7 linked regions of the Homo sapiens genome follow. The protein of the gene in region 3 purifies or fractionates together with the protein of the main gene of each other region. This does not show direct contact. Each region holds a gene or a part of one and is shown on either strand. Other genes may lie near its edges.

Evidence for each region.
Region 1: the proteins of SLC18B1 (region 3) and SLC25A46 purify together in Homo sapiens (affinity purification with mass spectrometry; one large-scale study listed by BioGRID and IntAct). This does not show direct contact.
Region 2: the proteins of SLC18B1 (region 3) and LAMP1 purify together in Homo sapiens (affinity purification with mass spectrometry; one large-scale study listed by BioGRID and IntAct). This does not show direct contact.
Region 4: the proteins of SLC18B1 (region 3) and SPRYD4 purify together in Homo sapiens (affinity purification with mass spectrometry; one large-scale study listed by BioGRID and IntAct). This does not show direct contact.
Region 5: the proteins of SLC18B1 (region 3) and AP3S2 purify together in Homo sapiens (affinity purification with mass spectrometry; one large-scale study listed by BioGRID and IntAct). This does not show direct contact.
Region 6: the proteins of SLC18B1 (region 3) and TMEM150C fractionate together in Homo sapiens (co-fractionation; one large-scale study listed by BioGRID). This does not show direct contact.
Region 7: the proteins of SLC18B1 (region 3) and MSRB2 purify together in Homo sapiens (affinity purification with mass spectrometry; one large-scale study listed by BioGRID and IntAct). This does not show direct contact.

Annotation. Positions count from the first base shown.
Region 1 is NC_000005.10:110,755,849-110,760,303, reverse strand, and holds part of SLC25A46 (mitochondrial outer membrane protein SLC25A46), read right to left. Parts: intron 4,309-4,455; exon of another isoform or gene 4,183-4,308; intron 3,603-4,182; coding exon 3,545-3,602; intron 1-3,544. UniProt on the Homo sapiens protein: Transmembrane protein of the mitochondrial outer membrane that controls mitochondrial organization.
Region 2 is NC_000013.11:113,313,953-113,318,407, reverse strand, and holds part of LAMP1 (lysosome-associated membrane glycoprotein 1 precursor), read right to left. Parts: intron 1-4,455. UniProt on the Homo sapiens protein: Lysosomal membrane glycoprotein which plays an important role in lysosome biogenesis, lysosomal pH regulation, autophagy and cholesterol homeostasis.
Region 3 is NC_000006.12:132,771,343-132,775,181, forward strand, and holds part of SLC18B1 (MFS-type transporter SLC18B1), read right to left. Parts: intron 2,972-3,839; coding exon 2,880-2,971; intron 1,747-2,879; coding exon 1,651-1,746; intron 908-1,650; coding exon of another isoform or gene 895-907; exon of another isoform or gene 865-894; coding exon 790-864; intron 1-789. UniProt on the Homo sapiens protein: Proton-coupled polyamine antiporter involved in the translocation of polyamines from cytosol into secretory vesicles prior to their release via exocytosis.
Region 4 is NC_000012.12:56,466,670-56,471,706, reverse strand, and holds the start of SPRYD4 (SPRY domain-containing protein 4), read right to left. Parts: upstream 3,130-5,037; 5' UTR 3,116-3,129; coding exon 3,031-3,115; intron 2,669-3,030; coding exon 2,130-2,668; 3' UTR 221-2,129; coding exon of another isoform or gene 64-220; 3' UTR 1-63. Other genes in the region: GLS2 (glutaminase liver isoform, mitochondrial isoform 1 precursor), read left to right, coding at 64-220.
Region 5 is NC_000015.10:89,838,167-89,842,621, forward strand, and holds part of AP3S2 (AP-3 complex subunit sigma-2), read right to left. Parts: intron 1,179-4,455; exon of another isoform or gene 1-1,178. UniProt on the Homo sapiens protein: Part of the AP-3 complex, an adaptor-related complex which is not clathrin-associated. The complex is associated with the Golgi region as well as more peripheral structures.
Region 6 is NC_000004.12:82,551,435-82,555,889, reverse strand, and holds part of TMEM150C (transmembrane protein 150C), read left to right. Parts: intron 1-4,455. UniProt on the Homo sapiens protein: Nonselective cationic channel with high permeability to Ca(2+). Component of a mechanosensitive cation channel, confers mechanically activated (MA) currents with slow inactivation kinetics. May contribute to proprioception.
Region 7 is NC_000010.11:23,104,892-23,109,346, reverse strand, and holds part of MSRB2 (methionine-R-sulfoxide reductase B2, mitochondrial precursor), read right to left. Parts: intron 1-4,455. UniProt on the Homo sapiens protein: Methionine-sulfoxide reductase that specifically reduces methionine (R)-sulfoxide back to methionine.

The sequences.
Region 1 (4,455 bases), on a different chromosome or scaffold from region 3:
TTGGACTAGAAGGTGGCAACAGAAGTAAAGTGGTTCAATTGTGCTTTTATCCTAAAATCAAAGTCTATGGGAATTACTGGTGAATTGCATTTGGGGTATGCAAGAGAAGGGTCAAGGATAACCCCAAGGTTGCTGTCCAGAGGAACTGGGGGAATAGCACTGCCTTTTATTGAGATGAAAAATTGCCAGAGTAGCAATTTGGTGAAGATCAAGAGTTCAGAAATGTTAAGTAAATTAACTCCAAATGGAGTTCACAATAGAAATTACAGAAAAAGGTACACAATGGACCTACAGATGGTTTCCAACTTACGATGTCTCAACCTAAGATTTTTCGAATTTATGACAGGTTTATTGGGATGTAATCCCATCGTGAGTGGAGGAGCACTGTATTATAAATGTGGGAGTCTTTAGTAAATAGATGATATTTAAAACTATGAGATGACAGTGAGCTTGCCTAGCCTTCTAATCCATCTTCCTACTTCTGACCCTGACATCCTTCCCACTCCAGTTTATTTTTAATGCAACAGTCAAAGAGATCCTAATAAAGATGTAAGTCAGATCACACCACCGCTCTGCTCAAACCTATCAAAGACTTTCCATCCTTCTCAAACAAAAGCCCAATTATTACAATGATTTACAATGTCCTATGTAATCTGGTCCCCTCTTACCACTCAGGCCTCATCTCCTGTATTCCCCCCTTGCTTACTTAGCACCAACCATAACAGCTTCCTTTCTACTTCTTAAGCATGTGTGATACAACACACATGACACAGTCCCACTTGAGAGTTTTTGCACCTGCTTTCCCTCTAAATACAATTCAACATTTGCTTATTTTGTGCTTAGTTAGCACCAGCCACATCGGCATCCTTCCTACTTCTCAAGCATGTATGATACAACACACATGACACAGTCCCATGTAAGGGCATTTGCACTTGCCTTCCCTCTACTTAGAATATTCTCCCAAATATGCATGTTGATCTTTACACAAATGTCACCTTCTCAGTGAGACCTTTACTTATCTTCTTAAAAAAATATTAACCGCCCCTCCCTACCCATTACACATCCTATTTGCCTTCCTTGCTTTATTTTTGCTTTCTTTAGCAGTTAATCGCCATGAAATATACCTTTTATTTAGTTGTTTATGTCTACTTTCCCCATAAGAATATAAGTGCTATGAGAACAGAGCATTTTGGTTTTGTTTGCTGTTGTATCCCCAGGGTCTATAACAGTACCTGATATAGGCAAGTACTCAATAAACAATTGATACATTTTTTTTAAAAGTTTAGCAGTTAAGATAATCTGCAAATCTGAAAGGTAAAGTGATGTAATTAAAACCTTGGTTTAAAACTATAATAAGAAGTCTGAAGTTGATTTTAGGGAATATGAGTCAATATGAATCCTTAATCAGTAAAAGGATATATATAAGTATTGCAACTTGAAAACAATCTTGTATGAGTATTGACTTTTAAAATGTGGAGACTAGTACAAGGATTTCTTTCTTTCTTTCTTTTTTATTTTTTTTAAGACAGAGTCTTACTCTGTCACCGAGGCTGGAGTACAGTGGCGTGATCTCAGCTCACTGCAACCTCTGCCTCCCGGGTTCAAGCGATTCTTCCATCTCAGCCTCCTGAATAGCTGGGACAACAGGCGCCCACTACCACACCCGGCTAATTTTTGTATTTTTAGTAGAGATGGGATTTCACTGTTGGCCAGGCTGGTCTCGAACTCCTGACCTCATGATCCGCCCACCTAGGCCTCAAGGATTCTTAATGAAGAAATAGATAACTACAAAGTTCATGATGACTGGGTAATTATGAAGGATGAAAGAAATGTAAAAATAAAAAACTTTCCTAAAACAAAAACTAAAGTTTTGAATCTTTAGTGTGAAGATAACAATAGTATCACTAATATATTGCCAAGGAGAAGAGGTTCTAAAGGAAGCTAATTTTTAGAGGGACAGATGAGATTGTTTTTAAAAGTTGAGTCTGAAGATTTAACTCACATGAGATTAGAGCTAATGATTCCTGTGAATAAATTAGCTCTTTCAGAATAATGAGTATAGGATAAAAAACAGAGGGTCAAGGATTGGGCCTTAAGGTATAAGACAAGAGATGGCAAAGGCATTATTGAAAAAAGATGTTCAAGAGAGAGAAATCTAAAGAAAAAAGAGTTCTAGAAAAGCAGACAAAAGAGATCAAAAGGAGTTAGCAAGTGGAACTTGAAGCAGGAAACAAGGAGTAAATACTGGGTTAAAAAAAACACATACACAGAAAAAACCCTATCACATAGTGAGCCGGGCACTTATATAAATAACTCATTCAATGTTACACGTCAGTTATTAAAATACTATTCACAATTTATGGATAAGAAAATTATAAAGGTTAAGAAATCTGTCTAAAGTCCCAGGTCTAATTTAAGCAGAGAAATGTGATAATGGGTCTGTCTCAAGCTAAAAATTGTTTTCCCCAATAAATCATTCTGCTTAGTTGTTTTTCCTTAAATAATTACCTTCCTGACATTTTTCCCTTACCTTTAAAATGAGGCTATCTCATACAAGTGACAACTCTGTAAATTCTATAGCACCATACAAAAATTCATCATTTATTTAACACAATGCCAAATGCAAGGGGAAGGGAAAGTATGATTTGGGTCGCAAGACACTAACTTCAGTTAACTGAAGTTAGTTCTAACAGAAATAATAATAATAATAATCATAAATCAAAGATGAATGATACAGCCAGAAAAGAAACAAGGTAGAAAAGAGTAATTAGAAGAGCAAAGGCTGATCCAGTGCGAGTTTTTACAGAGAGGGCACTCACATATACTAGAGAAAAGAATATGCTAGAGGATCTGATGTGGAAATAGAAGACAGGTGTACAAATAGTTGGATTTTGTATACAGGTGAAGTAAAAACTACCTTCATCTTACAGTTTTAAGTGTAGGAAGGAGGGTAAGACATTTAATTAAATGTACTTGAAGCGCCACCATGTGGTTAGGAATAGTAACACAAGCAAACAGAATTTCAAGTGCTAGCAGAAAATTGCTTCAGCTTTGTAGTATTTACCACACCCAATAGTATCAAATGTCACTTAAAGGCATGTTTTAAAAGAATCCTGTCAGTAAACTACCTGTGGGGACAACCTGCTTCCTGTTCGGATGATTATCCATCATGTTTATTCTCAGGTAATTATTAATTTACTGTCCAATGATAAGCCATAACCATCTGAGTTGTATGTAAGGGCCTTAAAAAGTTTATAGATTCTTTGTTTTCAGAGCAAGTTATAGGCTGTGTTCTGAGATGTCTAAATGAAGAGTATAGTTGCCTATGGAAAGGACAAAAATAATTAAAACTAGAAGTGTGACTTAAGATACCAATGGAAATATACAGACAAGCAACGTGCGATATAACTGTGATATTTATAAAATAAATATTTTAAGACATAGTCTTAAAATTTTCTGCTGAAATGTTAGATATCTACAATATACTGAATAGTCAAAAAACTATTCTTAAATAAAAAAAAAATGACAGTAAAAAAAAGCTCACCTGCACTGTTTCAATCAGACTTGCTGAATAAAAAGGCATTGCCACCACGTAAGTTAGGCTATAGAAATTAAAACAAATTTATCAGTATACTGAAACAAGATGCTTATACTAAATTTTTTAATATCTGCTTTAATATGTCAACATAATTTATAGTCAAGCTAGAATAATCTTTTTAAGGTTTTCAACTATTAATACCTACAGCCTAAAAATATTAACTTCAGAAATCTGTAACGTAGGATGCTTTATTCAACAGAGATGAAAAAATCAAATGATAAAACAAGGACAGCCTGCAAAGAAAATAGATTGGACATCTACCTACACATAGCTAATGCAGCCTATAAATCTAAAACTTAAAATTGAGGATGAGGGATCCATTCCATAGTTTGCCTTTTTAGTGATATTTGAGCAAGTAACTTTTCTGTTACTATCCTCTTATATCAATTCCCAGATTTCCCATCCAGCAGAGTTAGGCCAGTCTTCAATGGTGAGTGAAGTCCCTTTTATTATTAAAAAAAAAAAAAAACATTATACAGCTTTGCAAAGTTGTTTCCTATCACCAATATTTAGACATAGTAATATTACAACTTTGCAAGCCTGCAAAATATAGTTATTCAAAATAATATCAAGGTGGGACTTACCTAACCCTTATGGGCCAGGTCCTGGCAAGTAGTGGTTTTCAAGGTGAATGGAACATCACTAAGTAATAATGTGCTGGAATGTCCCACTGAGGGAGCCAGCAAGCTGGGGGATTTCCAATTCACAATCTTCAAAAAAAAAAATTAAAAAGTGAAGAATAAAATTCTAATCTACAAAAATGGTTACCGTTGTAAAATCACTAAGTGCCTTCAGGACTACATTTCAATGTCACTAAGGTTTTTTGGGTTTGCTTATCACCATACAAATACATTTGC
Region 2 (4,455 bases), on a different chromosome or scaffold from region 3:
GCTGAGTCACCACGCGTGAGCCCCACATATCCAGGGTGGGCAACCCTGCAGGGAATCTGCCACTCATAACTCCATCAGTCACCTGCTGCTTCCGCTTCCATCTCAACATTCAGTGGCCAATTCCCACCTTCATATCCCATCTACTCAGGGCAGGAAAGAGACAGGCAACGTCGCCTATGACTGCACCCCAACGGGTTCTGAGACACACACAGGAGTGCCCCCGCACCCCGGTGTAAAAGCCCCTTCTGGACAGAGCACAAGATGGCAGAGAGGAGCTGCAGTAACCACACCAAACTCTGAAGTGAGAGGCACTGACGGCCACTGGGAGCCGTCCCAACCTGGGATGTGCTCAGGGACCCTTGCTCACTGCCCTTGGCGAAGCTGCAGGTTGACCAGTCCTTTCCAAAACAGCTTCACTTGCTGGGCGCAGTGGCTCATGCCTGTAATTCCAGGGCTTTGAGAGGCCAAGGAAGGAGGACTGCTTGAGCCCAGGAGTTCAAGGCCAGCCTGGGCAACATAGGGAGACCCCCATCTCCACAAAGTTTTTTTAAAAAATGAGCCAGGCATGGTGGCATGCGCCTTAGTCCTAGCTACTCAGAAGGCTGACTAGGGAGGGTCACTGGAGCCTGGGAGGCTGAGGCTGCAGTGAGCAGTTATTGTGCCACTGCACTCCAGCCTGGGAGACCCTGTCTCAAAAAAAAAAAAAAAAAAGCAGCTTCACGGTTCCTTTATAAAATGTTACAGACCAGGGTTAAACAGGCAAAAGTTAAATGTGCAAAACCGGCCAGTCTTGTCCAAATTCTAGTCTAGATGGCCACACGACGCACAGAAAAAGTGTAACCTACGCTGCTTTGACAATTGTTTTTCACCTGTGATCCATGTGGCACATTCATTTCCCACCCTGTTTCTGTAGAGTGGTCACAAGAAGCTGGAAACACAAATAAAACATCATCAGGTCTAACCACCAGTTTAAAAAACTGGAACTTGAGAAATAAGTGTGGATAAAATGCCCTCGTCCTTCTACCTGAATTACAAACGCAAACCCACACTCTCCTTCCCTGAATGCGTACTAAATACCAAAGTCTTTCCTGCTGAGGGCGGAGGACAGTGACGGAGAGCTCATCACGGAACGCACTGGAGAGTGCCCTGCGCTGCCCGGGGGGAGATGGTGGCACAGGAGCCTCTGGGGAGACCTGAGGGTCCACTGTCACACCTCCTCCAGCACCCTCCGGAGAGCAGCACACAGCCGGGCCTTTCCAAAGCTCATGTGCTCTGAAGGCCCCTCCTCCTCTCCCGGCAACAGCAGATACTCACATCAACCTGCAAGCTGCAATTCAGACCCTCAAGGGTGTCTGTGAGGATGAGATTGGTTTGCACCCAGGTTCCCGACTCATAGCTCCCACAGCCTCTCTTACAGTTTTTTGTGACAATGTTGGGTGTGTCAGGCCTCTGACCTTCTCCTGCCCCTTTCACCTGTCCTGAGGGACTCTCATCCTCTCCGCCTTTCTGATGGTAGTTCTTTTTTTTTTTTTTTGAGACAGAGTCTCAGTTGCTCTGCCACCCAGGCTAGAGTGCAGCGGCGCCATCTCAGCTCACTGCAACCTCCACCTCCAATGTTTTACCATCGATTCCTTCCATTTAAGCTAGGAGTCAGACTCTGTTCCTAGGAATGAAAAAAAAATGCTGCAGCTGGGCACGGTGGCTCACGCCTGTAATCCCAGCACTTTGGGAGGCCGAGGCGGGCGGATCACGAGGTCAGGAGATCAAGACCATCCTGGTTAACACGGTGAAACCCCGTCTCTACTAAAAATACAAAAATTAGCCAGGCGTGGTGGCGGGCGCCTACAGTCCCACCTACTTGGGAGGCTGAGGCAGAAGAATGGCGTGAACCCAGGAGGCGGAGCTTGCAGTGAGCAGAGATCACGCCACTGCACTCCAGCCTGGGGTGACAGAGCGGGACTCTGCCTCAAAAAAAAAAAAAAAAAATCATGCCAAATTGGGTGGGAGATGAGACACGGTGACCTTCATTTTCAACTCCTAACAGGAGTCAGGCAGTCCTCTGATTCATTCAACAAGCGTGCACCTATCAGACCCTGAGGATAAAAGACGAAGACACCCCACTCCTCCCGGTGAACTCATAAACCCAAAAGCCTGGCTGAGCCTCACTGTAGATCTGCTAACCCCATATGGGCCTGGGCTGGAAATCCGGTTTGGATGGATATCTGGCTGACTCCAGCCTCAGGCAGAGCTGCACTCAGACCCTCTGGAGTGACAGTCATCTGCCCTACTTTGTTTTTTTGTTTTTGAGATGGAATCTCACTCTGTCAGCTGGGCTGGAGTGCAGTAGCATGATCTCAGCTCACTGCAACCTCCACCTCTCGGGTTCAAGCAATTCTCCTGCCTCAGCCTCCTGAGTAGGGGGGACTACAGGCACCTGCCACCACGCCCGACTAATTTTTATATTTTTAGTAGAGACGGGTTTTCGCCATGTTGGCCAGGCTGGTCTCGAATTCCTGACCTGAGGTGATCCACCCACCTCGAGTTCCCAAAGTGCTGGGATTACAGGACTGAGCCACCGTGCCCAGCCACATGTGCCCTACTTTGAAGATACTCAGGAAGGAAGGTACAAAACCAACAGGAAAGTCCATTCAAAGGTGGCTTGTGCTTCATTTCCTTTTAAAATAAAATCTATGAGGTCCCCGAGCTTTTTTAGATAAGATGATGTATTGAAAGGCAAGATGGGCCGGGCACGGTGGCTCACACCTATAATCCCAGCACTTTGGGAGGTCAGGAGCTCAAGACCAGCCTGGCCAACATGGTGCAACGCCCCCCTCTACTAAAAATATAAAAATTAACCAGACGTGGTGATGTGCACCTGTAATCCCAGCTACTCAGGAGGCTGAGGGAGGAGAATCGCTTGAACCCGGGAGGCAGAGGTTGCAGTGAGCCGAGATGGCACCACCGCACTCCAGCCTGGGCAACAGAGCAAGACTCCCTCTCAAAAAAAAAAAAAAAAAAAAAAAAAGACAAGATACATGAGGCTTTCTGGTGAAGCGCCACCCAGGCAGGAAGCCCAGCCTCCAGGACGCCGCGCCCCAGGCACACCGGCATCTCCACGCTGGTTCCCTCCAGGAGGCCCCGCCCCAGGCACACTGGCATCTCCGCACTGGCTCCCTCCAGGAGGCCACGCCCCAGGCACACGGGCATCTCCACACTGACTCCCTCCGGGAGGCCACGCCCCAGGCACACGGGCATCTCCGCACTGACTCCCTCCAGGAGGCCACGCCCCAGGCACACCGACATCTCCACACTGGTTCCCTCTAGGAGGCCACACCCCAGACACACCGACATCTCCACACTGGTTCCCTCCAGGAGGCCACGCCCCAGGCACACGGGCATCTCCACACTGACTCCCTCAGGAGGCCACGCCCCAGGCACACTGGCATCTCCACACTGGTTCCCTCCAGGAGGCCATGCCCCAGGCACACGGGCATCTCCACACTGACTCCCTCTAGGAGGCCACGCCCCAGGCACACTGGCATCTCCACACTGGCTGCCTCCAGGAGGCCACGCCCCAGGCACATGGGCATCTCCACACTGACTCCCTCTAGGAGGCCACGCCCCAGGCACACCGACATCTCCACACTGGTTCCCTCCAGGAGGCCACGCCCCAGGCACACGGGCATCTCCACACTGACTCCCTCTAGGAGGCCACGCCCCAGGCACACCGACATCTCCACACTGGTTCCCTCCAGGAGGCCACGCCCCAGGCACACGGGCATCTCCACACTGACTCCCTCTAGGAGGCCACGCCCCAGGCACACCGACATCTCCACACTGGTTCCCTCCAGGAGGCCACGCCCCAGGCACACGGGCATCTCCACACTGACTCCCTCTAGGAGGCCACGCCCCAGGCACACTGGCATCTCCACACTGGTTCCCTCCAGGAGGCCACGCCCCAGGCACACGGGCATCTCCACACTGACTCCCTCTAGGAGGCCACGCCCCAGGCACATGGGCATCTCCACGCTGGTTCCCTCCAGGAGGCCCCGCCCCAGGCACACGGGCATCTCCGCACTGGCTCCCTCCAGGAGGCCACGCCCCAGGCACACCGACATCTCCACACTGACTCCCTCCGGGAGGCCACGCCCCAGGCACACCGACATCTCCGCACTGGTTCCCTCCAGGAGGCCACGCCCCAGGCACACGGGCATCTCCACACTGACTCCCTCTAGTAGGCCACGCCCCAGGCACACGGGCATCTCCACACTGACTCCCTCCGGGAGGCCACGCCCCAGGCACACGGGCATCTCCACACTGGTTCCCTCCAGGAGGCCACGCCCCAGGCACACGGGCATCTCCACACTGACTCCCTCTAGGAGGCCACGCCCCAGGCACACGGGCATCTCCACACTGGTTCCCTCCAGGAGGCCACGCCCCAGGCACACGGGCATC
Region 3 (3,839 bases):
GCTTCTGAAAAGTTGATGGCTTATATAAAAATAAAAAATATGAAACAGATTTAAAAAATTCTTTATATTATTCTATTCTCAGTATTTGCAACTAATATAACTCAATTCAAAACAATATATTACATTGTTAGCATAGTTACCCTTCTGGTAGAAGGTAAAAAATAAACAAATGAATGAATAAATGAATAAATTGTAAAAATCAGAGACATGTTTCTATTAAAGGAACTTATAAATACCACTCAAATAAGATAAAGTATATGAAACCATTTTGACTAAGTATTAAACTGTTGGTATAGGCATTGATTGTTGAGTGAAAGGGTATGGATTAGAACTCTGGCTTTCCCCTAGATGAACTGTTTGTCTTTGAGAAACTCATCTGATCCCTCAGTGTTTCAATTTCTTCATCAACATCAAGCAGGGATAGTATTAATATTTTCCATCTTGCAAGTATGAATGAAATTAAATGAGGCTGGGCACAGTGGCTCATGCCTGTAATCCCAGCACTTTGGGAGGCCAAGGCGGGCAGATCACCTGAGGTCAGGAGTTCAAGACCAGCCTGGCCAACACGGTGAAACCCTGTCTCTACTAAAAATACAAAAATTAGCCAGATGTGGTGGTGGGCACCTGTAATCTCAGCTACTCAGGAGGCTGAGATAGAAGAATCTCTTGGACCTGGGAGGCGGAGGTTGCAGTGAGCCAAGATCGCACCATTGCACTCCAGCCTGGGTGATGAGAGTGAAACTCCATCTCAAAAAAAAAAAAAAAGAAAGAAATTAAATGACTACTCACCCAATTGACCACATTGCACTAAAAAGACCTGATACAAGTCCCAATGTACTTAATCCCTCTTCAAACCCATTTTCACTGCAAAAAGAGACATGAGTGTATCCATTATTAAAAGGAAAACCTGTGTGAAAGAAAAAATTGTATGATAGATCAATTAAGATAAACCAAGGATAATCTGGAAAAAAACCAACAGCAAGAATACTCTGCTTCTAAGATAAAAAGCAAATCTTATTTAAAAGAATTTTCATAGTTACATTTACTCCATGGTTTTCTAGAAATAATTTTTCTGCATATATATATGATATTAAGAAGCATGGCTCATTTGCATTAAATACTTATAAAAATATATAATTAAGAAATTCTTAAAATGAGATGAAGATGGAAAGAGAACAAAGGCAACTTTTAAAAAACAGAGATAGTTCCTTATTCCCATGAGAACTATTGAACTGACCCAGCACAGCCATAGTACTTAGTGTTCTTCATCATCATGCCTATTAAACAAAAGAATGATGACCAGGTGACAGATGCTGGTCACTCTAGGCTCTCTCATGGACCTCCTCCATGAAAGAGGAACAATGCTGAGACCTATCTATTTTGCTTTAGCTTTTCAAAATTACTTACATACTGAGGCATAAACCAAGCCAGACATCTGTCCACAACCCATTTTAGCTATTAATGTACTATTATCATTTCTATTAGTGTATTATTACTATTTATATCATAATATCATATGCTACAAAATCATGAAGATTTAACATTGGGGCAAAAATATCCAACATGCTGCAAAATTGAGAAATTCAAGAAAGCCTGTGATACTTACTACTTATTCACAATACAGCTCTTCAAGCAATGGAAGTAACTTACTGTGCACAACTGAGAATTTCCGGGAAAGTTGGAATTATACTCATTCCAGCAGAGAGGCCACTTACAACTAATATCAGCACCAGCAGCCAGAGCTGACTGCAAAAGGGTTTTGGAGAAAACAAATACAAAAAGAAAAACATTAGCGTTTTAACAAACACAAAGCTTAATGCTAAGGAAGTGAGGATCCCTGATAAGTTATTTCACCGATTATGTGCCTAGTCTCATTCCCTTTCCCATCTAACCCATTTCATTCAGTTAGAGTGTCCTTTAGCTCCTTACAGTTTTGGGGGCGGGGGGGTGGGGGGGAATTCATCCTGATATCTCCATCTCTTTGGTCCTTTGGTTACACATATCACATATCTGGAGCCAACCTGGCTTCTTCTCACCAGACAAAATCCCTTCAAAATTGGTGAAAACGTCAGTACTAAAACTGTTCTTTCAATCACTCGGCTTTGAACTTCAATTAATTTAAAGATGGCATAGAAGGAAAGAGGTAAAAGAAGAGTCAGGAAACACATTTGTTCCATGTGAGGAGACTATGCCAGTTACTTAATATATGTTACCAGATTTAATCCTTGTAATGTAAGTACTATTATCAGCTCCTTTTTGTAGATGAGAAAACCGAGGCTCTTGGAAGTTAAGTGGTTTGCTTATTAGTACATGGCAAAGCCAAAATGTAAACTCAGGTCTGAAGGACTCTGAAACCCCTTCCTTTCCAGGTTACTATGTTTTATCCCAGAAGTACCTGAAAAGGTCTAAGAAGTTCAGTTTATTTTAGCAACTAAATTACATTAAGCAAGGTCTAATAAGCAGCTACTACATGCTAAGGATGATACAGAAAGAAAAATAGATTTGGTCCCTGCCTCAAGGAAAAAGAAAAGAAAAAAAAAACAAAAATATATTCTAAGAACTATCAACTAAAGGTAAGTAGCAACAAATTCTATTTTAAAAATATAACAAAAGTATAAACAAGTATGTACAATTGAAATACAGAAGGAGAATATGCATTTTTGTCATTTGAGACAGATTTTATGCATTTTTTTCTGTTGTCCCACTGCTAGCTTCTAGTAGGGTAAAATATTGTCAGCCTAACAATTCAATAGAGTCCTAAAGTTAATTATTTAAATATTAATGTTCAAAATACTAAACTATACCAATGTTAAAACAAAATTTTTCGAAATAATTCCTAATGTTATTTGGCCAAACATACAGAAGAAGAAAAAAATTACCTTTTAATATGCAAGATTGGGACAGGCCCTAAGAGCATGTAGCACCCGGCTGTGATTAAGTTGCCAAACACCAGAAGCCATTTCCTTAGAGGCTGGTAAAGGAGAAAGAGAGTCAAAATGATTCTTAGAGGCAAAGACCCTCCATAATCAAACAACGTAAAACATTAGTAAAAAACACAAATCATGATATTCAAAAACCCAAATACAATGAAGAAAACAAAACTTTACATTTAAAAGAAAGTAAGGAGATGATAAACTCGCAAGCAATGACGATATATAACAAGGCAGAAAGTGAACAAAGGACAAAGATTTCTTAGCAGGGGAGTGCATTGCAGATCAGATTTTGCACATGATGAACTATTACAAATATAACAACGAAAAAACTCATTATAAAAAGCAGTAACCGGCCAGGCACGGCGGCTCACACCTATAATCCCAAAACTTTGAGAGGCCGAGGTGGGAAGATCCCTTGAGCTCACAAGTTTGAGACCAGACTAGCCAACATGGTGAAACCCTGTCTCTATTAAAAAAATACAAAAATTAGCTGGGCAGGGTGGTGGACATCTGTAATCCCAGCTACTCAGGAAGCTGAGGCAGGAGAATTGCTTGAACCTGGGAGGCGGAGGTTGCAGTGAGCCAAGATCACACCACCGTACTCCATCCTGGGCAACAGAGCAAGACTCTGTCTCAAAAAAAAGCAGTGACCACAAAAAAAACCCACCAAGTATTAATAGTTACAATACCTAGAAAAATCACATTATTAAAAAATTACCTGCTAGAGACTGAATGCTTATGTCCCCCCAAAATTTATATGTTAAATCTTAACACCCAATGTGATGGTATCTGGAGGTGAGCCTTTGGGAGGTGATTAGTTAATGAAGGTGCAGCCTTCATGAATAGAATTAGTATCCTTATACAAGAGGCCCCAAAGAGCTCCCTTGCCCATTCCATCATGGTGAG
Region 4 (5,037 bases), on a different chromosome or scaffold from region 3:
CAAATATATACAACCACCACTCTCCACGTCTCCTTTGCCTGATCATATCATTATTCCTCTCAGGTGGGGCAACATTCCCCTGGATGATGCTGTGCAGTTCAACCATCTGGAGGTGGTCAAACTGCTTCAAGATTACCAGGACTCCTACACACTCTCTGAAACTCAGGCTGAGGCAGCAGCTGAGGCCCTGTCCAAAGAGAACTTAGAAAGCATGGTATGAGCACAGGTCATGGACAGCCCCTGCTCAAGAAAAAGCATGAGCTGGCCACACATGTAATCCATAACCACCAAAAATACTATGGAGAGCTACACTGCTTCAGTGGGGACCAAGCAGTCATTTGGTGACTTAGGCTAGTGCTTTCTATGGGAGTCAAAATACCCCATTCCCTCAGCAGACAGAGTACAGAGAAGGGCCTCAGAGGACACCTGCAGTACAGCTATCCAGAGAGACTGGGCTTCAAGGTACAGCCTAATGGCTTGCCCCACTCAAAACCATCCCAGCTCTTCACCCAGGTCTCCTCTTCCTCTCCCTGAAGAAACCATCATGAGAGAGATACTCTGGTGGAGGGACTCTAGCTACCATGCACATGTACATATCCACAGAATATGGGAAGTGGGAATGGCTATATACATGGCTTTAGTAGTCTGGAGAAATCTACTCCCCTTGGCCAGGACATGCTGCTGCTACTGCTAACAGCCAATTTTATAGACAGAGAAAGTATTTTGTGTTCAAATAAACTTTAATTACCAAATCATTTTTGCTAAACCCAGTCCTTCTTTCTTCCCTAGGGGTATCTAGCTTCATCACCATCATAGAAGGTAGAAAAAGATGGAATCACAGGGTCAAAGCACAGCTTCTCTACCTACCCTACCAAACAGTACATATTCACTTACCCCACCAGGTTTTTCTCAACTCCAAATACTGCTTTAGGTTAAGTGTATTCTGCTGCCAAGGGAAGCATAGGTTTGAGTCTAAACAGGCTCTGAAACAGATTGTGCAAAACCTCAGGCCTCCTTCCTTCCTCGGGAAGTTCCAACTGTGGCAGAAATGAAGATGGAACTTCTCAAGAATAAACAGTTTTGGCCGGGTGTGGTGGCTCACGCCTGAAATCCCAGCACTTTGGGAGGCCAAGGTGGGCTGATCACATGAGGCCAGGAGTTCGAGACCAGCCTGGCCAATATGGCAAAACCCCATCTCTACTAAAAATATAAAAATGAGACGGGCATGGTGGCACACACCTGTAATCCTAGCTACTCAGGAGGCTGAGGCACGAGAGTCGCTTGAACCCAAAAGGCAGAGTTTGCAGTGAGCCAAGATCATGCCACTGCACTCCAGCCTGGGTGACAGAGTGAGACTCTGTCTCAAAAATAAATAAATAGTTTCTAGCACTCATCCCCTAGATATCCCCCAAGTGTCTCTCTTCCCCTTTGGTCAAGGTTATAACTGGGATAATGATTATGACAGACTGGCTGGGTGTCAGAGGTACAGATTTAAGGTAGATGGACTCAGGGTAAGGATAGCTACAGCTGTGTGGGGCTGAAGGTCTGTGGCACTGAGCTACTGGGGAAGGAGGGCTCTGTTTTCATTTTGACACACTGAGTTAATAAAGCACTTACTGAGGGAGCCAGAGCCCAAACTCTAAATGTGCTGTAGAAAAAGGGCCAAGTCATTGACTGCACCACTCCTTCAGCCAGAGGTAGAAAGGATTTACTCTTCAGCCATCTGGTAGAGCCCCAAGAACAAGTTACATGTGGACAAAGGGAGGGAGAGGTATCATGGTGATTAATAAATTCAAACAAAGCTGAATGATAAGACCCCAGGATGGAATACAGTCTGAGAAAGGCCTGGGCAAAGGGAGGCAGAGGGACTGAAGGAAGCAGGTCAAGGAAGATACACCCATGGTAGCCTAGGAAATTGGCAGTAGTTGGTGGGTGGGGAAAAGGAGGGTTTGGCTGTATGCCTAGCTTTCACAAGGTAGGGGATGAGGAAGATGATCATGATATTGCACAGAGGACCCAACACTGAATTGTGGGAGCTAGAGGTTGCTTGAGGCAAAGTAAAAAGGCTTCGGACACTTTCAAAAGGAGGCTGGCCAAAGGCGTGATTAGGGACTCCAGTAATGGACATACTAGAGGCCCTCGGGCACCTCAAGCCCTGAATGGGTCAGCAGCTCCCCATCCCAGAGAGCAAAGGCAGGCACCACTGGACCCCGGAAATCTGTCTGTAGCGTGTGAACCACAGAGACCTGGCTCACATCCACCAGGCTCAGCTTCTGGGCCTCATACTCCAGCAACAGCCCCACCTTCTCTGGCTGCCCAATACCCTCAACTGGGGCTTTCTCGTTGGCCAACATGGTGTACCACTTGCGCTGGGCATAGGTGAACACCCAGGAACGATCATCAACACCAATGCAGCTATCCCGGGACATGTCCACATCTGCCACTCCTATCCGGAACTGCTGGGAGCGCTTCACTGTCACTTCCCAGTAGTGTCTGCCACTGGTGACCGCTGTGTCTGCCAGCACCACTGCCCACTCCCGGAAGCGCTCCACATTCAAGGCCACCTTGGTGGGCTCCAATCCCACCAAGCCATATTTGACACCCGTATCATCTCTGAAGAGTGCCAGGCTGCTGTGGGCGGTTTTTTCTTCCAGTTTGAAACTGACGCCTGCGGGCAGAGCAAAAAGACGGGATAATAACAGGGGCTAGAACCCTAGGGCTGGTGATATATTCAGATATGAGGCAGGCAGCCATGATACACGAGCAACTAGGGAAGAGTCAGAATGCCAAGCGGGCAAGAGAGTCGCGAGGTCGCTTTACTACGGATAGCTCACGGAGCTGAAAAACTCGGATTGAGTAAGTCCCGGAATTTAAAGAAACCAAATGGTATCACAGGTTTGGAATCTTAAGACCAAGGCAGGTGGGGAAGGAAAAGACCCGAGAGGGTTGGAGTTGCTTCTCGGAGTGGGGTCTGGGAATAATAGACGGCAGCCATTCTGGAGGTAAAAGAGTAAAAAGAGATAATCCTACCTCTCTGGGCCTCTGTGGAGGCAACTCCCAATCGTTTGGCTCCCCAGCGGCACAAGCGCAAAGAACGTGCAAAAAGCAGCGCCATCTTGCGCCTTGGATGAACCGGGCACGCCTCCCGCTTACAGACACAGCCATCTGCCCGCCCGCTCCCCTAGCACGTGGTGCGCGAGGGGCGGCCGCGCAGTGTTATGACGTAGGCGACGCCCGGGGGCGGGCGGCCGCCAAGGTAGTGGTTTCTGTTCTGTTTCTGCCCGCGGTTAATGCTGCTTATTCAGTTTTTCTGCGTAGACGAACGCTGCTCACATTTGAACTACGTAAAACTTTTAGAGATATAGTGTAGCCAGATGCTTAGAAGTATAGATTTTAAAATTAGACAGTACTGTAATTAGCTTTGATCCCGGCTTCACTGTGTGAGTTTGGGCAACTCACTCCACTTTTCTGAGCCTTAGTGTTCTAATTTATAAAATAGAAATTATATACAGACCTTAGTAATAATTAAGTGAGAATAATCTAGGCCGGGCGCGGTGGCTCACGCCTGCAATCTCAGCACTTTGGGAGGCCGAGGCAGGCGGATCACGAGGTCAGGAGATCAAGACCATCCTGGCCAATATGGTGAAACCCCGCCTCTACCAAAAGTACAAAAATTAGCCGGGCGTGGTGGCGCGCGCCTGTAATCCCAGCTACCCGGGAGGCTGAGGCAGGAGAATCGCTTGAACCAGGGAGTGGGAGGTTGCAGTGAGCCGAGATTCTGCCACTGCACTCCAGCCTGGTGACAGAGCAAGACTCCATCTCAAAAAATAATAATAATTAATCTAGATATATATTGGCAAATAGCAACCATTGGGTAATTCACAGTTGTTTATAATTAATAGTAAATACATAAATACTGTTAATGTTGGTTTTGTATGTTCAAGGCTAGGAACGGATGGTTTAACTCAGCATTCAGTTTTCTGAACTTAACCAAGAGTAGCAATATTTTGGTTCAGGGTATGAGGTAGGAGATTATGGACAGCCTATATTGAACATTTCGATCTGCATTCCATTTTATTTTATTTTTTGAGACAGGGTCTCATTCTGTCACCCAGGCTGCATGCAGCACAGTGGCGCAAACACAGCTCACTGCAACCTTCATCTCCGAGGCACAAGCGATCTTCCTGCTTCAGCCTCCCATGTAGCTGGGACCACATGTGCACGCACCATGCCCCGTTAACTTTTTTGTAGAAACGGGGGTTTCGCTTTGTTGACCAAGTTGTTCTCGAATTCTCGGGCTCAAGCCATCCTCCCACCTTTGCCTCCCAAAGTGCTGTGATTACAGGTGTTAGCCACTATGCCAGGCCTACATTTTTTTAATCAGTCCACTTCTCAAGGTTCTGCTGGCCAGTGCAATAGCAACATACATCCCACCTCCATCCTCCTACCCCTCAAAAAAGGATTTTAGATATATATTTTTAAAATGTATATTCTGAGACGGAGTGTCACTCTATCACCCAGGCTGGAGTGCAGTGGTTTGATCTTGGCTAACTGCAGCCTCTGCCTCTGGAGTTCAAGCAATTTTCCTGTCTCAGCCTCCTGAGTAGCTGGAATTACAGATGCCCACCAACCACACCTGGCTAATTTTTTTTTGAGACTGAGTCTCACTCTGTTGCCCAGGCTGGAGTGCAGTGGCGCAACCTTGGCTCACTGTAACCTCCGCCTCCCGGGTTCAAGCAATTCTCTTGTCTCAGCCTCCTGAGTAGCTGGGACTACAGGCGCATGCCACTACGTCCGGCTAATTTTTGTATTTTTAGTAGAGACGGGTTTCACCATATTGGTCAGGCTGGTCTCAAACTCCTGACCTCAGGTGATCCACCCATCTCAGCCTCCCAAAGTGCTGGGATTACAGACGTGAGCCACTGCACCTGGCCTAATTTTTGTATTTTTAGTAGAGACAGGGTTTCACCATGTTGGCCAGGCTGGTCTCGAACTCCTGACCTCAAGTGATCCACCCACCTTAGCTTCCCAAAGTGC
Region 5 (4,455 bases), on a different chromosome or scaffold from region 3:
CATCAACACTGACTGTCATTAAGTAGGTCCAGCTATGACAGAATAATCCCTGTCCAAGCAACTGAAATGAATGTCTTCCACCTTCTATAAGGCAGATCCTCCAGCCTGTGCTCCACTGAAGGGACGTGATCAGAGCAAGATAGAGCCCAATTCCTTTGCACCTCTCCTCACCTCATTTCTTACTGCTTAGATTAGAAAGCAGATTCAGCATAAACACCTTTCTAAGCATAAGGGTCACATTTGGGCTTAGGTTCCATCTAGCTAGCAGTCATCTAAACAAAGCTGAATCTCAGTGTACCTAACTGCTGTGATGGGACGGAGGTGACTCAACTACTGTACCCCTTTGTGGTAGGAAAGCTGTCACAGAAAGCCCTGGGTGGGTCAAAGCAGAGATGCCCACTGTGGTTCATAAGGAATGGTACTCCATATTTCAAACCAAATCACATCAAATGGCCCTCAAGGTGCTTTCGGTCAAGTTGGGAAGACAGCAAGTACAACCTTCTATTGTTAACTAAGTGCCAAATGACTGGGATAGTCCTGGGGAAGTCAGAGAAGAAAGGGTACAGTGGCTAGAGAGATCAGAGAGCTTCACAGAGACAGTGGGAGGATGGAAGCTGGGCTCTGACATTAGAGAGGTAGGGGAAAGAATTTCAGGTAGAAGATGTTGGAAGGAGCAATTCAGCTGGTGTATGGGCAGGTATGGGGAGCTCCTGGGTCTGGCTGGGATGGCAACTTTCTTTATGCAGGAGAGAGGCTAAGACAAGGCTGAGAAGGTAATTTGGGTCTGGAGCAGGGCTTCTCAGCCTAGGTACTAGTGACATCTGGGACCAGATAATCCTCTGCTGTGGGGCTGTCCTGTCACTGTGGCCTGTTCTCTAGCATCCCTGGTCTCTACTCCTCCAGCTTGACAATCAAAAATGTCTCCAGAATTGTCATATGTGTTCCAGGGGGCAAATTCACCCCAGCTGAGAACCACTGGTCCAGAGTCTAGAGTCAACCACCAGTTTACTCTGTCAGCAATGCAGAGTCAAGAAGAAAGATGTGTCTGCATATCTGGGCACTGTGCACTTCTGACATCTGAAGTTCTCTGGCATTGGCTCCCTGTATTTTGCCCTCAGTAAGTGCAGGGAACTTCTGATCTTGAGGACAGAGTATAATAAATCAAATGTATTCCCTTGCGTGTGTGCCCACATTGAGCTTTATTAACCACTGTTCTGTCTACACACACGCACACACACACTCTCACGAGGTGTTCTTACATTTTATACAATATGAATTATTCATTAGCTATATGCAAATGAAGATTTAATGGTAAAAGTCTCATATTTAGATAATTTACAAAATGTTAAACAAGACTGGTTTTAAAATTATTCCCTGGGGGAATTCCACTGTTTATACTTCCCCATCAAGAAATAGGCCTCTGAAAACAGTATGGTGGTTCCTCAAAAAGATTAAAAACAGAATTACCATATGGCCCAGCAATTCCACTTTTGGATATACACTCAAAAGAACTGAAAGTAAAGACTTGAAGAGAATGTGTACACCCATGTTCATAGCAGTATTATTCACAACAGCCAAAAGGTGGAAGCAGCCCAAGTGTCCATGAACAGACGACTGGATCAACAAAATGTGCCATAGAAATACAACAGAATATTATTCAGCCTTAAAAAGGAAAAGAATTCTTTTTTTTTTTTTCATCTGAATTGAGATGCTGTAAAAGGGAAGGGAATTCTGAGACACAATGTAACACGGATGAACCTTGAAGATACTATAAGTGAAACAACCCACACACAAAAGGATGAGGACTGTGTGATTCCACTCCTGTGAGGTACCCAGAGTAGTCAAATTCAGAGACAGAAACTGGAACGGGGGCTGCCATGAGGCAGGGGGAAGAGGACAGTGGTGGCTATTGTTTAATGTGTACAGAGGTGCTGTTTTGCAAGATGAAGAGCTCTGGAGACGGATGGTGGTGGCGACTGCACAACAATGTGGATATACTTAATGCCACAGAACTGTAAGCTTAAAAATGGTGAAGACAGGAAACTATATGTTACATATTTTACCACAATTTAACAAAAAAGGAGAGAAATAGTCCTCTATACCTGCACTTTCAGTATTTATTCCTTTTATTTAGCCAATCCCTGTGTGGGTAGAAAGTAGTACTTGTTGAGTATCTATTATGAACCAAGTACTTTATGTAACTTACCTTAATTTTACAACATTCATCTAAGGTAGGTAATATAATCTTCACTTTATTATTATTATTACTATTATTATTTGAGGCTGAGTCTCACTCTGTCACCCAGGCTGGAGTACAGTGGTGTGAACTTGGCTCACTGCAACCTCCGCCTCCTGGGTTCAAGCGATTCTCCCAACTCAGCCTCCTGAGTAGCTGGGATTACAGGCACCCGCCACCATGCCCAGCTAATTTTTATATTTTTAGTAGAGTCGGGGTTTCCTCATGTTGGCCAGGCTGGTCTGGAACTCCTGACCTCAGATGATCCCCCTGCCTTGGCCTCCCAAAGTGCTGAGATTACAGGCGTGAGCCACCACGCCTGGCCTGACTTCACTTTATATATGAAGAAATTGATACATTTTATATATGAGGAAAAGGCAATAAAATGATCCCAATGTCATGTATATTAGCAGCAGAATGGTGCTGATTCCGGAGCTCATGTTCTACCCTTTATATCATACTTCCTCAGAATCCCAAACTATGTCTTCCACTCTATTCATCCCTGACCCCTAGTCCACATGAAATCATTTAAGACTTGTCTTTGGTGTGTCAATATCTTGTATTAATTCTTCCATGCTTTATCTCCAAGGCCTAGAACAACGCTCAGAGTAGGCATGCTAAATGAATGAAAGGCTTTCCATATATCTAAGTAGCATATTCCTTGGGCTTTAGGGACTTCGAAGATAGACAACAGTGTGGTGGTGGGGGCTTTCTGGAGAAGGTATAGTAAAAGGCCTAACACATGATGTCGTGGAGACTAGTGGCTGGTTAACAGAAAAAGTCAGTTAAAACTTCTTATTTAACACTGCATCATAAAGTCAGCATTTTCAAATGCTGTTCAAAATATGTTCCAAATGCAAAAAGAAGAAATAAAAATGCAAACTCCATTTTTGTTATAACTACAGGATATCCAAAATTCCAAACCCCCAAACAGGTGAAAAAGCTGTCAAAAGCAGGGAGCTCAGGCAGGGACTCCTTTGCTTCACAGAAGAAAAAGAAGAAAGGATGCTACAGGGAGAGGACAGGGAAGCTGGTGATCTCAGAAAGATCTGCAAAAATATGTACTTCCTGTGGGTAAAGGACACACTCCAGCACCAAATTAATTCCTTGTTTTTGGAAGGCAGGAACTTCCTTGGACCTGAAGTTGAGGCTAAATGAGAAATCACGCAAGCTACATTTGCCTCACAGAGGTGGTGTCTGTGGTAGTAGAGAAGACATCCTTTGCATTGTGGAGATGCTAAGAGACGCCTTGCCTATCTCGATTGGCTGGCTAGAGACTAAGGGTAAACGGACTCACCCAGAACCCTAAATCAAGGGAACAACTGTAGCTAGCCCAGAACAGAGTTTTGGTAGCTCCTCCAACAAACATCCTGCAAAACAGCTGGTCCCTGAAAAACTTGCCTATTTAAAGATAAGTATACAAAAAATCTAAACAGGATCTATATAAATATACAACGAGAAAAAATTAGGAAAGAAATAGGAAAACCAAATGGCAGACTAAGACCACAGACTGGAAAAGGGCCTCCATGGACTAGATACAATGGTAATAAAATATTTTACACAAAGAAAAAAAGAAAACTTGATAAAATAGTTGTCTCTATGAAATGAGAGCTCAAAGCAGAAATACAAGAACTTTAGCAGAGGTAGGGAGACGAGAAGAGAAGACAAGCTGCATACTGGCAGAACTGAGGAAAGAAGTGAAAGGAAAAATACTGTTACAGAAATGAAGGTGAAACTGGAAGAAGCAAAGGGAGAAGAAACTGCTAAAAACACACTAGGAACAAAAGGAGAGAAATGGAAAAAAAAAATGAAACCAAAAAGGGCTAAAAGAAATAGAGAAGAAACAGTTACAAAAGACAGCAAAGGAGATGTAATATTTGCATAAAAGAAAACTTTAACATGAATGGGAAAAATATGTAAAGATATGTTCATAAAGATAGAATCTAAGGTGTTTCTGAACTATAAGAGGATTGGGGTCTACACACTGAAAGGTCACACTGTATCCCAGGGGAAACAAATTCAGAATAGGCAGTACCAAGATACACCTTTAGGTAAGGTTTCTGGGTTCCTGCAACCAGGCAAAAAGATCAAATCACTTAAAAGAGAAACAAAATAATGAAAATTTCCACATTAATATTTAATGCTAACAGAAAATGGAACAACACCTACAAAATTCTCAAGGACAGAAAGTGTGACTCAAGGACTTTATTTATTTTTAT
Region 6 (4,455 bases), on a different chromosome or scaffold from region 3:
GACAAAAATAATAGCTAATAGTGAGTAACATTATTGAGTGCTTAACAAGTCCTCCAGCTGAATGCTTTGCATCTTATCTTGTCTCTCACAACAGTCCTTTGGTGTAGGTATTGCCATTATCCCGCAGTACCTACATCCCAGTAAGTAGTGAAGGCAGAATAGGAACCCACGCAATCTGGTGACAGCCCAAGCGTTCAACCACCTCACCTCCCATCTTACAATGTGATAGCGATACATAGATGTACATCTACAAAACTGTGAGGCTCAAAAATTGTAGAGCATTGTACAAGTGCGGAAATAAGCTGATGCCAGTTATTTTCTGTGTAAGAGGAGGCCTGATGGGTGATAGGGGAATCATTGCACATTTAGGCAGGAAGAGACCTCACTGCTGCCAGCCTGTGGTCTCTGAAGGTTAACGCCCTTGAAAAAACAGCTATATGCCCAAAGAAATATGCTTGTCCCAGAGACTGACTACAGATTTTGTCTCCAGAGCTGTCTTCCTTCCCTCCTAACCACTTCCTAACTTCTGCACACATTTGTTTTTAGCAGATAGTGACAAATGGTCTCAGTGGATATGTCTGTCTTATAAATCTACCACTATTTACTACATCCTAAGTTATTTGTCTTTTCAAAATCACCTCCTGCCCACAAGTGCCTCGTGACATAGTTTTAATAAAATAAATAGAAAACAATGTTGTTTTAAGAATTTCATATGACAAAAGAAGTCTTGAAAGTGAGGCTGGAAATATTTTTTCTCCAGTGCAATCTAGAAAGTAAAACTAATTTCATTTTGGAAGTAGATTTCAGTTTTCCTTAAAGGTCAAACTTAATGTAATCGGATCACTTAAAGTCCATAGACTTTGTCAGGTAGACTAGAAGAGGCAACAGCTTGCCATCATGCTTACTTTCCTTTAAAAAGTACAGAAGCTGTGTCTAACGTGAAAAATTCTAAAGCTATTCAGATTTTGTTCAAGGCTGTAGAATCTTCCATCTCTGAGGACAGTGATCCAGACTCTATCTGTGGAATAAAAAGGGGCAAGATGAACTGCCTTTGAGAAAACATTGAAAGTGGGGTAATACTTTTAGACAGGTGTAGACAAAGCTTAAGAAGTAACTATGCTTAACTATGGCGGTATAGGAAATTAGCCCATACTTTAAATGATATTATTTAACTTTGAAGCAATTATAATGAATTATAATGACAATCAACTGAATATAAACATAAATGTCTCTAAAAATAGCATAGCTTTACTATTCACCAAACATTTCATTTATTAACAAAGTAGATTTCGTACTCTTTTTTTACACTTATGATGACTTGACTGCCAAAGAAATATTTAAATGGCAATAATTAGAAGTTTTAAAGCATAAATTAAAACTGTATGTAGCTAAAATTAACATATATTTTTTAAACTGTGCTGGTTGATAAAATAGTCTTTCAAGTTATTTTCATTCTGTTGATTCATGAGTGAATAGTGTTAATTAAGAAATGTTGATACCATTGTAATGCAATCCCAATAGAAATAGTATTTTTTTACTGAACTTGGAGTATTTGCAAATTAAAATTAGAATTCTGTAATATAATCATCCTGGAATTTCTAATGGAAATATATCTCCTGGAATTTCTAAATTCTAGTTTGCACTGAAACTTAAAGTATATTTATATAGAAACACTGATAACTAAAATATACCTACATGTAGTAGCAGGAATATTAACTTGTGGGTGACATTTTTTCTGCCTTTGTGGTATTATGTTCCCACATACCATAGACTTCAAAAGTATGGCATTTTGAAACATTTTCCAGTCTTGTCATTGACAGCACAGTATTCACAAAAACCATATTTATCTCCTGTAATTTTAGCAGCTAATAGAATTGTTCTTGAGGAAGCTGATTATCTTTTCTGTGACATTTTGATTGGTGTTTCCCCATTTTAATTTCAGCTTATATGTGGCATAAAATTGATTTATATGAAAAGGAGTGGCTTGCCATTTTATAACAAAATTTTGATTGTATATGTATGCACATAAAAATAAAGATGAAAATTCTCCATTAACTGATTCGCAGAATGATACAGTTATGATCAAATAGTGGCATATCGTGATCTTTTAAGATCAAGCCACTGACCCAAATCAGTGTTCACTTACAGAATCATAAATGTAGCAATTCAGAAATGTTGCTTTTTATTAGCTATTGGACAATATTTGTGAAGTCCCTAGCACAGTCCTTGGCTCAGAGTGACTTTTTTTCACTCTTCTTTCTTGTTCATAACACAAGTTCTAACTTATTTTATCGAAATGGGAAATTAAAGAGGATTTTCTGGATGATAACTGCTCCCCTGTTCAGTGTCTCAGAGCCAGAAAATGCCTTTGGAAGGCACGCAATTTATTTCTTAGAGTCTTGGCTTGACCATAGCCATCACAGAAGGATGAGACTCCATTCCACTTTGGCCTATGAATATTTTATATTAGTTCTCAACATATTGTTTGTCCAAGCCAACTTAACATGACTCTGATGTTGTACCTTAAGGCTTACTTCGGTTTCATCCGGCTTCTAGTTTGTTTGCTTGTTGCATATTTACCTTGCCTTTCCAAATAAATCATTATCTCTTTGTGTTTAGAAATTATATTAAGTAAATGTTTTTGTCTTAGGGCATTTGATGTTTTTTCGATAGGAGTCAGCTATTTTGTAAATAAAGTCCAATTGGTACACAGCCATACCCATTGTTTACATGTTACCTGTGACTGCCTCTACATGAACACTGAAGAGTTGAGTAACTGGAACAGAGACCAGGTGGCCCATAAAGGTGACAATGCACTGGCTAGCCTGTTATTGACTGAATTTTTAATTTTGATTAATTCAAATTTTAATAGCCTCTGTGGCTACTGGACAGCAGTTTCAGATGGAACACAAAGGTGTTCTTTCCTCCAGGCCAGTTAACTAATGTGATCTGGCTTCTTGTGCTGCCCTAAGATGCAGCACCCTTCCACTGGGTTCTTCAGACAGACCATTGACCTTTGCCCATGGCTGGCCTGGGCAGACCCTGGACTGAAGAAGTTCTTAATGAGTTGCTACTTTAGACAGCACCACAAGCCCAGAAGAGATGGCAAGCGAGGCAGGGGGCAGAGGTTCTCAACCATGGCTGCACAAAAAATCATCTGACGAACTCTACAATTCCAGCGGCACCCCAAATCTATTAAATCAGAATCTCTGGGTGGGTCGGGGAGCTCAGACACCAAACTTTTTTTTAAAAGCTTCCCAGATGATTTCATTGTGCTCTACTGGCTAGGCAACATCACAGGTGAGCTAGGTAGCCTGTGTACTTCAGAATTCCACCAGGTCATCACAGGCAAGCTTATGGGCAGATGGGCAGGGAAATGGACACATGAAGGCCAGTGGACACCTAGCTTAGCTTAACAGGAAAGCTCTGGTGGGGACTGAGCTGTTTTCCCACCTGGTTTCTCTAGCACCAGGGCCCATTTGCTCAGTAGGGCCAAAGTGTAGATTTGTGTGTGACAGAGGTGAGCTTCAAAGAAGGAAAAATGCAGGATCTTCCAACTCACACATCCAGTGCTTTCTACTTATGTATTCAAAAACATTTATAGAGCACATTTTAATACATTTTTGTGTTGCTATAAAGGAATACCCGAGGGTAGTGGGTAATTTATAAAGAAAAGAGGTTTATTTGGCTCCTAGTTTTGCAGGCTGTACGAGAAGCATGGTGCCAACATCTGGTTCTGGTGCAGGCTTCAGGCTGTTTCCACTCATGGTGGAAGGTGTGGGGGAGCCAGTGTGTGCAGAAATCACATGCCGAGAGAGGAGGCAACCAGAGAGAAGGGAGGGAGGGGACAGCCTCTTTTTAACAACCAGCTTTCTTGGGAGCTCATAGAGTGAAAACTTGCTACTGTGAGGTTGCTACCAAGACATTTATGAAGGATCAGCCCCATTACCTAAACCCCTCCCATTAGTCCCCACCGCTAACATTGGGTATCAAATTTCAACATAAGGTTTGGAGGGATCAAATATCCAAACTATACCAGAGTGCCTACTGCATGTTTAAGATATGCCACACTTATTCAGTCTAGTGGGGTGACTGCCATGTAAACAGTTACCATACAGTGGGGTAAGCATGCTAATTGAGAGGCATCCTAGGGTACCATAAGAACATGAGGGGCAGCCGCCCTGGATAGATAAGGGGAGAGACATCAGGTGGTGCTTTCCAGAGATGGTGACACCCAAGCTGAGTCTTATAGGATCAAAAAGAGTAGTCACGTGAAAAGGGGAAAATGAAAAAAAGCAGATACACACTGGGATGAGGCCCTGGCTGACTTTTCTGTCCCTAAGTCTGAACACTATAAGATAGCTCCTTCCTGAGGAAGACTCTCCCTGCTATTTTAGCAAACCTCATGGAATGTCCTTATTTTAACTGACCTTTACCATTTACTCATTCACTCAT
Region 7 (4,455 bases), on a different chromosome or scaffold from region 3:
AACTCCTGACCTCAAGTGATCTGCATGTCTTGGCCTCTCAAAATGCTGGGACTACAGGCATGAGCCACTGCACCCGGCTGATGACTTTTTTTTAAAGACCATTTTTGCCCAATTTCTTTTGTCATCTCCCCTGTCAAAGAAAATTAAATAAAAAACAACCCTTGCACAAGCTGACCATGAAGATCCGCTATCACAGGGCCTGGCGGCAGGCACTGTCCCCTCCTATGGGCCAGAGGAAAGCCAGAGCACAGAACAGCTCACCAAGTGACAAAGCTGACTCAGGAAATCTTCAGATCCCTCCAGGCTTCCCAACTCAAAAAATTCACAGTTTAAACATCCAAATTCCCTGTGGTAGTATTAACAGCACATTTGCAGTGAGCTGTATAAAAGACAATTTCAAATTAACCTACTGAGCCTACCATCTGGGTACACTTGGATGTTTTCCTTCTTTAAAACCCTAAACTTAGCTGCAGAAATCCAAACAGTAGTGAGCTGGTCCTTTATGGCCGGTCCCCTCAAATGCCTGCTTCCAACACTGGCACTAGTTAGCAGCTGTGAAGAAGAGGAAGTTGGCCAGGTGTGGTGGCTCATGCCTGTAATCCCAGCACTTTGGGGGGCCGAGACAGGTGGATTACCTGAAGTCAGGAGTTCAAGACCAGCCTGGCCAACATGATGAAACCCCATCTCTACTAAAAATGCAAAAAAATGCCAGGCATGGTGGAGCACGCCTGTAATCCCAGCTATTCAGGAGGCTGAGGCAGAAGAATTGCTTGAACCTGGGAGGCAGAGGTTGCAGTGAGCCGAGATTGTGCCACTGCACTCCAGCCTGGGCGACAGAGCCAGACTCCATCTCAAAAAAAAAAAAAAAAAAGAGGAAGTTTCCCATCCTTCCCACCTGGGCTGAAGATGAATGCATGCAAAACAGGACTGCCAGTCCTAAGGCTGATCTAGAAAAGCCTTTTCATAGGATCCAGACAGCCTGGAAAGACTCAAAACATAATTTCATTATTGCAGGGGGGCAGCTGGACAGAGGAAGTGATAGATAACTGCTATCACAGTAAGCAAAATAAAAATTAAAACATCAGTGAAGGCCAGGTGCGGTGGCTCATGCCTGTAATCCCAGCACTTTGGGAGGCCAAGGCGGGTGGATCACCTGAGGTCAGGAATTCAAGACCAGCCTGGCCAACATGGTGAAACCCCATCTCTACTAAAAATCAAAATATTAGCCGGGTGTAGTGGCAGGCACCTGTAATCCCAGCTACTCGGGAGGCTGAGGCAGAATCGCTTGAACCCAGGAGGTAGAGGTTGCAGTGGGTCAAGATTGCACCATTGCACTCTAGCCTGGGCAACAAGAGCAAAACCCCATCTCAAGAAAAAAAAAAAAAAAATCAATGAAAAGGAATACTCAGCCAACATAGTTTCTGAAATGACATCTACCCACTCTCTCCTTGCCTAGCTTCCTGATGTTTCCCTCCCTCTCCAATTTTATACAAGTCCTGTAACTTATTTAGGGTTAAACTCAGCTTCTATCTCATTTCTAGTATTGACATGATAATCTAATATAAACCCAGGCTGAGCTGGGTGCTAGTGTTGCAGAGGTGGGCAGCAAAACAGTTTCTGCACTCAAAGAATTTGCTCCCTAAGTGGGAGGAAGACACACGTGAGCTGACAATTTATACCATGTGGTGACAGCTATGATAGAGATGGCATGGAGTTCGGGTAGCGCTGTACCCTTCACTACGAAGGGGGGAGTTTCCACAAAGGCTGACTGTATCAGATATTATCTGAGATGGGAGGAAGTCTTTTTATTTCTTAACCTTTTATTATTATTCTAAATTGCACAACTGATGGTTGTTTATTATAGAAAAATGCCAACACTAAGCTGACTTTTGAAGAGTAAGAGTTAATTGAATGAGGAAATGGAAGAGTATTTCTGGCAGGCAGAATACCTTGGTCAAGGCCCACATGAAAGAAGAGGGCAAAGAGGAGGATGGAGAGAGATGATGCCGGAAGGCAGGTGAGACCAGGCCAGATGGGGTTGGTTAGATCACGACAAACAGCTTAAACTGTGTCCTACTGGAAATTTGAAGCTACTGGAAACTTGTGAACTGGGTGTACGCCTGATTGGAGTTGGTTTTTAGAAAGATCGCTTGACATTCAGGTAAAGAATGAGCTGGAATGGGGCAAGATGCCACCAGAGGCAGAGGGCAATCCGACCTCCATCACACATGCAGGCCTGGAGTGTGCTCCTGCTCAGGCAGAGCAGTGGAAATAAAAGAAAGAGAAGAGATTCAAGAATACTTAGAAGAGAGAATTGAAATGCCTGGCTGCACAGGGAGGGGCCAGGGTCAGAGAGAGAATGATGTTCAAGATTCCCCTGGGATTGCAAGGTCTGCTGGACCAATGGCAGTTCACCATTCCATCTTGTCAATACAACGCACCTGCTGGAAACAGATGACACACTCAAGAGGGATGACTGCAGATAACCTCACACAGGACTGTTTACAAAGGTGCAGACGGGGCCAATGGAAATCCACAAGTGAGGGCAACGCATCCCTGGGCTAATGACTCTGAGAAGCCATGGCCTCCACTAGGCCTGTGGGACAAAGGAAGAGGGAGTGGCCAGAACCTGGTGAGGCTGCACCTGCAGGGGAGGGCTGCCTACAAGAGGGGCCACCTGCAGTACAGGAACACAGCCACTGCCATCCTGCAGCCCCACAGAGAGAACGCTGGGCTCTAGCGATTTCTCCATCCCACCTTTTGATCTCACTGTTGTCTCCCACTGGCTAAACTGAATCAATAGCTGGGGGAAAGGGAGCTGCTCACTCTTCCTAGAGCTCAGAGCAGGGGAGCCCGCGGAGAGTGGATCTGGAGAGTAGACAGAGAATGACCTGCACAAAACCTCCCTTCTATTGATACTTGACTTTCAGTTATTGCTCAGCCATCCTGTAAATTTATTCGTTGGTCTAGCAGAGTGCTAGCACATTACCGTTGCCCAAGAAAAAACATGCGGGAGGGAATTTTAATTTAGAGTCACCAAAGAGAAGCCTTCGATGTTTTATTTCTCTTCTCTTAGGTGAACAAAGCTAATGAAGGCTTACATTTCTGCAATACTCTAAAAAGTTAAACGTGGAAATGGATCCATGGAAAGGGATTTATAACATTAGTTAAAATAATGAATGATGCTCATTTTGTCAAATGGCCAAATGCAGAGAGTATATTGCACCATCTGTTTGAGAAGCCCACAGATTTATTTTCCTAAACATCTGGCAGCTCATCTCTAGGGTCTGTCTATGTACCAAGCCCTGCCTGGCTCTGTACCTGAGAATTAGGGTTGGCTTAGAATACTCTGGGAATACATACAACTGCTCACAGAGTATCATGTGGTTCCCTTGTGCAGTCTACACAAATGGCTAATGTAGTCTCTTTCCCAACAAGGGCTTTAGTAAAATCCCGCCTACAGGAAGTTTTCAAAAATACCAGCATTTCAGGGGACTTTATTGGAATGTGCTGGCCCTTCTGATGACTTTAGCATTGGAAAAACTGAGGGTGAGACCATGATTACAATGGCAGTGCATGTGGGTAGTGACATGAGTTTTGCAGGTGCTGACAAAGGAAAAAACATTCATACTCTACTATGTTTGAAGCCACAGGGCTGGGGTCCACTCTGTGGGATCTGCTTCACTAGTAAAAATATCTAATAACAAAGTTCAATTCAAAAAAGCTACATTCCAGTAGCTATATTTGGGTCTAAGACAGACCACTTGTTAAGCAACGCGGCACTATGTTCTCATTTATATGTGAGAGCTAAAGAATTTGAACACATGGAGGTAGAGAGTGGAAAAATGGATAACAGAGCCTGGAAAGGGGGTTTCCTACCCTGGAAAGCAGGGGGTAGGGGGAGGATGAAGAGGAGTGGCTTAAAGTCCACAAACATACAGTAAGAGAAAAGGAATACACTCAGTGTTTGATGGCAGAGTAGGAGGATGACACTTAACAAAAATGTATTGTATTCGGGTGACAGACACCCTAAATACCCTGACTCGATTACTATGCATTATATATGTGTAACAAATTTTCTCAAGTACCCCAGAAACTTGTATACACACACACACACACACACACACACACACAGACACACAGAGAGAGAGAGATAAATGTAGCACTGTAAAAAGTGGTGTTATAATGAAGAACCACTGAGGGTTGTTCTCTCAGAAAATGAATGAAAGCTGAGATTGCCAAATGCAGTTTAAATAATGTTTCCACCTCTTACCCGGCAGTCATTCAACATTCACAAAAGTTGATTTTTCGGATGCCTACTAGGCCAGCCACCACGTTAGGTGCCAGGGGTTACAGCAGTGATGGCAAATGCTATGAAGGAAGAGTTCTGCTAGAAGCAACCCTAGCTGGGGGCTAGGAGAAGGTTTGCCAGAGAAAGTGAGATTTGGGCCGAGA